Homo sapiens: one gene and its partner. The protein of the gene in region 1 interacts with the protein of each later gene in a pairwise test. Each region holds a gene or a part of one and is shown in the gene's direction. Other genes may lie near its edges.

What was found.
Region 2: the proteins of HACD1 (region 1) and TECR interact in binary tests that used the Homo sapiens proteins (3 or more experiments, as listed by UniProt).

Annotation. Positions count from the first base shown.
Region 1 is NC_000010.11:17,610,630-17,614,538, reverse strand, and holds part of HACD1 (very-long-chain (3R)-3-hydroxyacyl-CoA dehydratase 1), read left to right. Parts: intron 1-3,909.
Region 2 is NC_000019.10:14,560,464-14,564,372, forward strand, and holds part of TECR (very-long-chain enoyl-CoA reductase), read left to right. Parts: intron 1-2,061; coding exon 2,062-2,112; intron 2,113-2,677; exon of another isoform or gene 2,678-2,710; coding exon of another isoform or gene 2,711-2,742; coding exon 2,743-2,794; intron 2,795-3,194; coding exon 3,195-3,239; intron 3,240-3,336; coding exon 3,337-3,440; intron 3,441-3,518; coding exon 3,519-3,634; intron 3,635-3,718; coding exon 3,719-3,824; intron 3,825-3,909. UniProt on the Homo sapiens protein: Involved in both the production of very long-chain fatty acids for sphingolipid synthesis and the degradation of the sphingosine moiety in sphingolipids through the sphingosine 1-phosphate metabolic pathway.

The DNA of each region.
Region 1 (3,909 bases):
GAGCACGGTGGCTCACGTCTGTAATCCCAGCACTTTGGGAGGCTGAGGCGGGTGGATCGCCTGAGACCAGCCTAGCCAACATGGCAAAACCCCGTCTCTATTAAAAATACAAAAATTAGCCGGGCATGGTGGCACAGGCCTGTAATCTCAGCTGCTTGGAAGGCTGAGGCACGATAATCGCTTGAACCCAGGAGGCTGAGAGATCGTGCCACTGCACTCCAGTCTGCACTCTGTCTCACACAAAAAAATAAAACAATAATAATAATAATTTCTGTAAAGACAGGTTTTTGCTATATTGCCCAGGATGTTCTCAAGTGATCCTCCCACAATGGCTTCCCAAAGTGCTGGGATTACAGGTGTGAGCCACCGTGCCCAGCCAGTGAACATTTTGAAATATCTGCCTTGTGTTAACTGGGTGTCTGTCCTTTCTCTTTTCAGTTGACTCTCTGTCTTGAAAGCCAACTGATATTTCAAAAATGAACATCAATGCATAGCTCCAGTTTAAAGACTTCAGTGACTCCCTGCCACCTCCACCCTGATCTAAGGGATTCAGGCTATCTGCCATTCAAGGCTTTTTGCAATCTGCTCCCGATTCCCCTTTCCAGTCAACTTGCATTTGATATCTCTGACTCACTCGTCCCTCAAAGCACCATGTATTTTCACAGCGCTCTGCTTCTGTGCTCAGGTTTTTCACTTTTGTATAATGTTCTCCTGTTATTCCCATGACTTCTAATCAAATCTACCTCTTTGAAGTTTTCCGGGTCTCCTGCCTTACCTGGTGCAGAATTAAATGCTTTCTCCATTCTGTCCCTCTGACCCTTCCCCGGCAAATCAGGGCTTGTTCTAAACTTGTCTCCTTCTGCCTCTACTGAGAAGTTTCCTTGTCATATTTACAAAAATAAGGGATATTGAAATGGAATAATCTCTGTAACTGACTCTTCAGATGCTTTCTAGAGGCGGTGAGATTTGAAGAAGGAATAAGATTTGCATACATAGAGAGTAGACATTTCAGGTGATATAAATTCTGGAAATAGGCATGATATGCAAGCCTGATGTATTCTCTTGATTGAACTGGAGGGTGCTGTTGGGGAATAGTGGTAAATAAGGTTGAAGAAGTTGTAGTGTTGAAATCGGGACAAGAACTTACACGTTTTATAGGGTGGACAGCAGAAGACTAGTTGAGGCTCTTTTTGTTCATTTAACTTATTTCTCTGTTAACAGAACTTTGGCGTGTTTATTAATTTTTTTGTAATAATTTTCAAAACAAGTGGGGAACAGTGGTATGCACCTGTAATCCCAGCTACTCAGGAGACTGAGGCAGGAGGATTGCTTGAGTCCAGTAGTTTAAGACCAGCCTGGGCAGCAAAGCGAGACCCCATCTCAAAAACAAAACACACACACACACACACACACACACACACACACACACACACACACACACCCCAAATTGCAAAGCAACGGAATAGTATTTAAGAAATATTATAAAATTTTACATAAATGTAAAATACAGCTTGTTATTTTATCAGCCTATCACACACTTTCATTTTCTTTTTATCTTTCATATGAATATTTGACCTCTTCCAAGTTTTTTTGTTTTTGTTTTTGTTTTTTTTTTTTTGAGACGGAGTCTTGCTCTATCACCCAGCTGGAGTGCAGTGGGGAGATCTCGGCTCACTGCAAGTTCCGCCTCCCGGATTCTCGCCATTCTCCTGCCTCAGTCTCCTGAGTAGCTGGGACTACTGGCGCCCGCCACCACGCCCGGCTAATTTTTTTTGGATTTTTAGTAGATACGGGATTTCACCGTGTTGGCCAGGTTGGTCTTGATCTCCTGACATCGTGATCCGCCCGCCTCGCCCTCCCAAAGTGCTGGGATTACAGGCATGAGCCACCGCGCCCGGCCCCCTCTTCCAAGTTTTTACTCAAAACTTCATTCTCAAGGAGGCCTTACCTGGTCATCTTAATTTGAATAGTGAAACACATACTCCTTATCTCCCTTGCCTGTTTATTTTTCTCCATCCCACTTTCTTTCATATGATTGTACAATATATTTTACTTATTCGCAATGCTTATTGTCTGTCATCTCCATTAGAGTGTAAACTCCAAGAAGTACTCAATAAATATTTGAATGAATGAATGAGTGAATGTATTACAGCATTGCTGTTATAATATCTGCTGTATTGTATATTTTTCCATTTTCACTTAATAGTCTGTCAGGTTTTCATCTGTTTTTCATAATTATACTTTTTGACAGTTACATTTGAGTGTATAGAATTAATTATACAATAATGGATTAAATCATGCGCCTAACGACATTTTGCTTTTATTTGTTTCTGTTCAATTCGTGGCTTAGTGTAATAAATTCCTGGAAGAAGAATTACACCTTTAAAGGATGTAAGGATTTTTTAGGGTTTTTTTTTTTTTTTTTTTTTTTTTGAGATGGAGTTTAGCTTTGTTGCCTAGGCTGGCGTCAAACTCCTGGGCTCAAGTGACTTCCTGCATTAGCCTCATGAGTAGCTGGGATTACAGGTGAGTGCTACCATGCCTGGCAGATGTAAGGATTTTTTTTTTTTTCAAGACAGAGTCTCGCTCTGTCACCCAGGCTGGAGTGCAGTGGTGCGATCTCAGCTCACTGCAAGCTCCGCCTCCCGGGTTCATGCCATTCTCCTGCCTCAGCCTCCCGAGTAGCTGGGACTACAGGCACCCCCCACCACGCCTGGCTAATTTTTTTGTATTTTTAGTAGAGACGGGGTTTCACCGTGTTAGCCAGGATGGTCTCGATCTCCTAACCTCGTGATCTGCCTGCCTCGGCCTCCCAAAGTGCTGGGATTATAGGCGTGAGCCACCACACCTGGCCAGATGTAAGGATTTTTATGGCACTTGCTCATAATAGGGAAGTGAGCATTTCTCTCCCTCCCTCTCTCTTTCTTTCTGACAAATACTTTTGTGCCCGTATATATAAATGCATTGTCCTTCAAATACTTTAGGCCCTGTCCTTGAAGCAGGGTAACCTGGGGCATTAATATATAAACAACAATTGCAATAAAATAATGAGATAAGTGCTAAGCAGATGTGTCAGAGGACAGACAGGTAGGGAGAATTAGAGAAAGTTTTCTGTGAGAGATCACAGCATTTAAACTGAGCGGTGAAGGACTTAAGTAGGCATAAGTGGGGAAACAGCATGAGTTAGAGGACAGAGATCTGAAATTGCAAGACATCTGTTGAGGCATCAAGAAGAGGGCTTGGGCCGGGCGCGGTGGCTCATGCCTGTAATCCCAGCACTTGAGGCTGAAGCAGGCGGATCACGAGGTCAGGAGATCGAGACCATCCTGGCTAACACAGTGAAACCCTGTCTCTACTAAAAATACAAAAAATTAGCTGGGTGTGGTGGCGTGCACCTGTAGTCCCAGCTACTCGGGAGACTGAGGCAGGAGAATCTCTTGAACCCGGGAGGCAGAGGTTGCAGTGATCCGAGACCATGCCACTGCACTCCAGCCTGGGCAACAGAGCGAGACTGTCTCAAAAAAAAAAAAAAAAAAAAAGAAGAGGACCTGAAGTGTAGAGTGGGAAATGAAGGCGGACAGGTAGCTTGGGGCATTGCACTGGGCCTCAGATGCTTTGCTAACATGTTTGGATTTTAGTCTGTACACAATACACAAAGGTGTTGTTTAAAGGTTGTGTCTCATTCCTTTGTAGCTGGGTAACCTCAGATAAGCTACTTAACCTCTCTGACTCTTAGTTTTCTCATCTGTAAAGTTGGAACAGCACAACTACTTAGCTAGATTATAAAGGAATAAAGAGATAATGGATATGAAGTTCTTAGCAGGATGCCTGATGCACAGTGGATGTTTACAAATGTTCATTTTTATTCCTAGTGGTTTATTTAAAATTGTACTTTTTTTTTTTTTTGAG
Region 2 (3,909 bases), on another chromosome or scaffold:
GCTGTGCTAACCCTTTCCCGTGGATCCCGCCCCGTGTCCTCTGTCCCTATCCTACATATCCCCTTGGTGGGGCCCAACGTCCTGCGTGGTGTGACCGAGCTCTTTTTTTCTGGCCCCTCCATGTGCCAGCTCTTTGGCCTTGTTATCGCTGTGGCTTGGAGGAGTTCAGTAACCTTCCCCTAGAGGCCACAAGGCCAGGCAGTGCCTGGAGTTGACAGCAGGGACTCAGGAGGCCCCGTGGGCCAGGATTTCCTGGCTGCTGGGCCCATTCCCACCCTCCTGTCCAGGAAGTGGGGGCGAGTGTGTCATGGCTGGGGAAATAGGCCCCCATGCTGTGGTGACTGCCAGGCCAGCAGGGGAGTGGGGATCTGAACCAAACCCACGGGCAACAATGCCTCCTATCCCATGGGGTGCCTCCCATCTGTCAGGGGTCACCTAGTGTACCCCATGCATTGTCTCAGGGGACCGTCACAGTCCTGGGAGGTAGTCTGCTTCCTACCTGCCCCCTTCTGAGGCCTAGAGAGAGGTGACATGCCTGGGGTCCCCCAGGGACTACAAGGCAGGGCTGGTTACGGTTCCCGAGTGCAGGCCACCAAGCCCCCTTGTCTCCCGCTGTCGTTGGGAATGTGCAGGAGGGGTACCCAGCTTCTCTGGCTTGACCGTGGTGCCCTCATCTTCAGGATGGGCCCTAGCTGCCGTGGCCCGGTCTCCCTGGGCTCTGGGTGGGTGGGCCTGCCCTGGGATGGCCCCAGCCCAGAGGTTTGTTTCTGAGCATTGTGTCCTGCTCCTTTTCCTCAGGCAGCCTCTGGGGGCCCCCGCTGGGTTTCTGTGGGTAGGAAGGGTCCCCCAAGAATTGCTGGCTGGTGGCTGACTTGGGATCAGGCCTGCCTGCTTGCCACGACCCCTGTATAATAGGATTGCACTGACCCCTGCATAGGGTGGGTCAGATCCCCGGGGGCTGCCTCCCTCCAGCCCTGCCCCTCTGCACCCCCATCGTTCATCACTGGCCTGGGGGCTCAGGGAGGGCTGGGCCAGACTCCTACCTCAGGGGCTGGCACAGGCCTGGCTCTTGGACGCAGGAAGCGCCGGGCTTTAGTGGGGCGCAGGTCCTGGGTGAGGGTGCAGTGTTTGGGCTGACTCAGTGGAAAGCCTGCCCCACAGGTGGCTATAAGGTGAGAAGTGGGTGGGGAGGAAGGTTGGGGAGACCTCATCAGCCCAAGCTGGAGGCGGTTGCCTAAAACTTCCACACACCCCGATCCTTTCCACACTTCGAGAGAGGCTCTCTGCACCCATAACTCCAGAATCTGTCACCTCCCTGGTAACACAAATGCACAAGGAAAATAATCCAAAGTGTCTCTTACAGCTCAGAAGGGGAAATGGATGATCTGTCTCGCGGATTCTCAAAATAGCTGGGATTTCTCCAAGCCCAGTGAACTCCCTAGGCCTGAGCTGCGGGCTGGGGCCTGCACGGCCCGCTGGCCTCTCACTCTCCTCTAGCCACTGGCTCTGTGCAGGGCGGGGGCTGGGAGGTGTTGTCATGCCTGCCCCTGGGGCTTTCCCTGTGCTGGTGCCGTTGAGGGTTTTGAGGTGACCACTCAAAAGCTGCTTTCAGGGCAGCCTGGCTCCCCGGGGAGACTCCCAAGCCCCCCTCAGAGAAGGTCTGTGGCATGGCTCCTGGGGGGCGCAGTCTGGGGTGGTTTTATATTTAGCTGGGCTGTGGCTGTGGTTGCCACTCGGGTTACATCTGGCACAGAAGTCGGCAGTGCCAGGGCCGGCACGGGCTCCTTTCCAGCACCGCGGCAGAATTTGATCGCGCTTGCCCGGCCCAGGGCTGCTTCCCGTGGGGAGGTCGGTGGTGGGGGCTGACGGCCGGCAGCTGGGGCTGCTGGCCACCGTGGGCAGAGCCGAGTGGCAGGGCTGGTGGCAGGCGGCATGGACTTGAACTTGAGCTTGTTGGCCCGGGAGGCCACCCCAGGCCTCCTCCCTGGCCTCAATGGGCTCCCCAGGCCCACACCCCCAAAGGTGGCCAAGAAACCTAAAAAGGCTGTTCTCTTCTTCGAGGTGGAGATTCTGGACGCAAAGACAAGGGAGAAGCTGTGTTTCTTGGACAAGGTAGGACTGGGGCGTGGGCTGCACTGGGCCAAGGGCACTGGGCCCGGGACCCCAATCCTTATAGCCCAGGAGCTGTCCAGTGGGGCCCTTTGTGCCCCACCCCCTGCCCTATGGAGGGGTATGCCCTCACTTGGGGTAGGGTGGATAGCCATGTCCCCTGGGTGTGGCGGGGAAATGGAGGCACAGGAGTCTCAGTGGACCCTGCGGGGATTTTGGTCCTGGGAGGGCGGTGGAGGAGTGAGCCTTGCCCCTGCTGAGGCCGGGCCTGGGGGAAGGGGCTTGCGCTGTCCCTGGGGAGGACAGAGGGCCTTTGCTCCTGGGAGAGTCATGGGTGAGAAGTGGAGAGGAGGGGCAGAGAAGCAGGCTTGCCTTCCCATGCTTAATCCGCCACTAGCCGGGCTGGGGGCCTGCTGGCTGAGGGTAAAAGTGGAGCCCCAGACCCCTGCTGTCACTGCACTGGCAGGGCCCTCGGTGGTCCTTCCCTGACTGCAGGCAGAGGCCTGGACCCCAGCCCTTCCCCCTTCCCATAGCTACAGCCCAACCCCCAGCCTGCCATCCCCTTTAGTACCTCCCCATCCTGAGTCTGGGCTCCCCGCAGAGCTGACGTCCCTGCGCCTGTGCTTCCCCCAGGTGGAGCCCCACGCCACCATTGCGGAGATCAAGAACCTCTTCACTAAGACCCGTGAGTTCTAGTCCCGGCCACACTGCCCCTGCAACCCCTTTGACCAGGGACCTTAGGGTGGGAGGGATCCCATCCTGCACCCCTCTCCCAGGGGCCTGCAGAGATGCCCCAGTGTGGCCCAGGCTTCTGGGGCGTGACTGGGGCAGGCGCCTCCACGTGGCACTCCGCAGGAACGCCCTTGCTAGGCTCTGGGAAGGACAAGATCCTGCTTCTGCCCGCGCTCTTCTGGCTTGTGTCCTGAAACCGCACAAGCCTGAGGGTTTGCCCCCAGGTGGGAGGAGCTGTGGAGTCCTGGGGTCCTTGCACCCTGGGAACCCTGAGAAGCTGGCACAGTGGCTGGGCAGCGGACCGGCTGAGCCCTGCCAGGCTGTGGGCTGTAACTGCCCTGTTCTCCCCGCAGATCCGCAGTGGTACCCCGCCCGCCAGTCCCTCCGCCTGGACCCCAGTGAGTACAGCTGTCCACTCGGCCCGCCCCCTGGGCTCCTGGGTGGCAGTGGGAGAAGGCCCGGGTAGCCCCTGAGCCCTGGCCCGCCTCTCTGCAGAGGGCAAGTCCCTGAAGGATGAGGATGTTCTGCAGAAGCTGCCCGTGGGCACCACGGCCACACTGTACTTCCGGGACCTGGGGGCCCAGATCAGCTGGGTGACGGTGAGTCCTGACCCTACCCACGGCCTCTTTTCCCGTCAGCCACGTTGGGTGACTCATCTTGCCCCCCTCTACTCTCAGGTCTTCCTAACAGAGTACGCGGGGCCCCTTTTCATCTACCTGCTCTTCTACTTCCGAGTGCCCTTCATCTATGGCCACAAATATGACTTTACGTCCAGTCGGCATACAGTGGTGCAGTAAGTGGGGCAGGTGGGAGGAGGGTAGGGGAAGGCAGAAGACCTGCCGGACCAGCCCCAGCTGAGCCTGCTCCCCCCGACCAGCCTCGCCTGCATCTGTCACTCATTCCACTACATCAAGCGCCTGCTGGAGACGCTCTTCGTGCACCGCTTCTCCCATGGCACTATGCCTTTGCGCAACATCTTCAAGGTGAGAGCCCGTCCCCGCCTCACCCCTAAGCCCCGCCTTTCTGCCCCACCCCGCCCCGCCCCCACCGAGCCCCACCCCAAGGCCC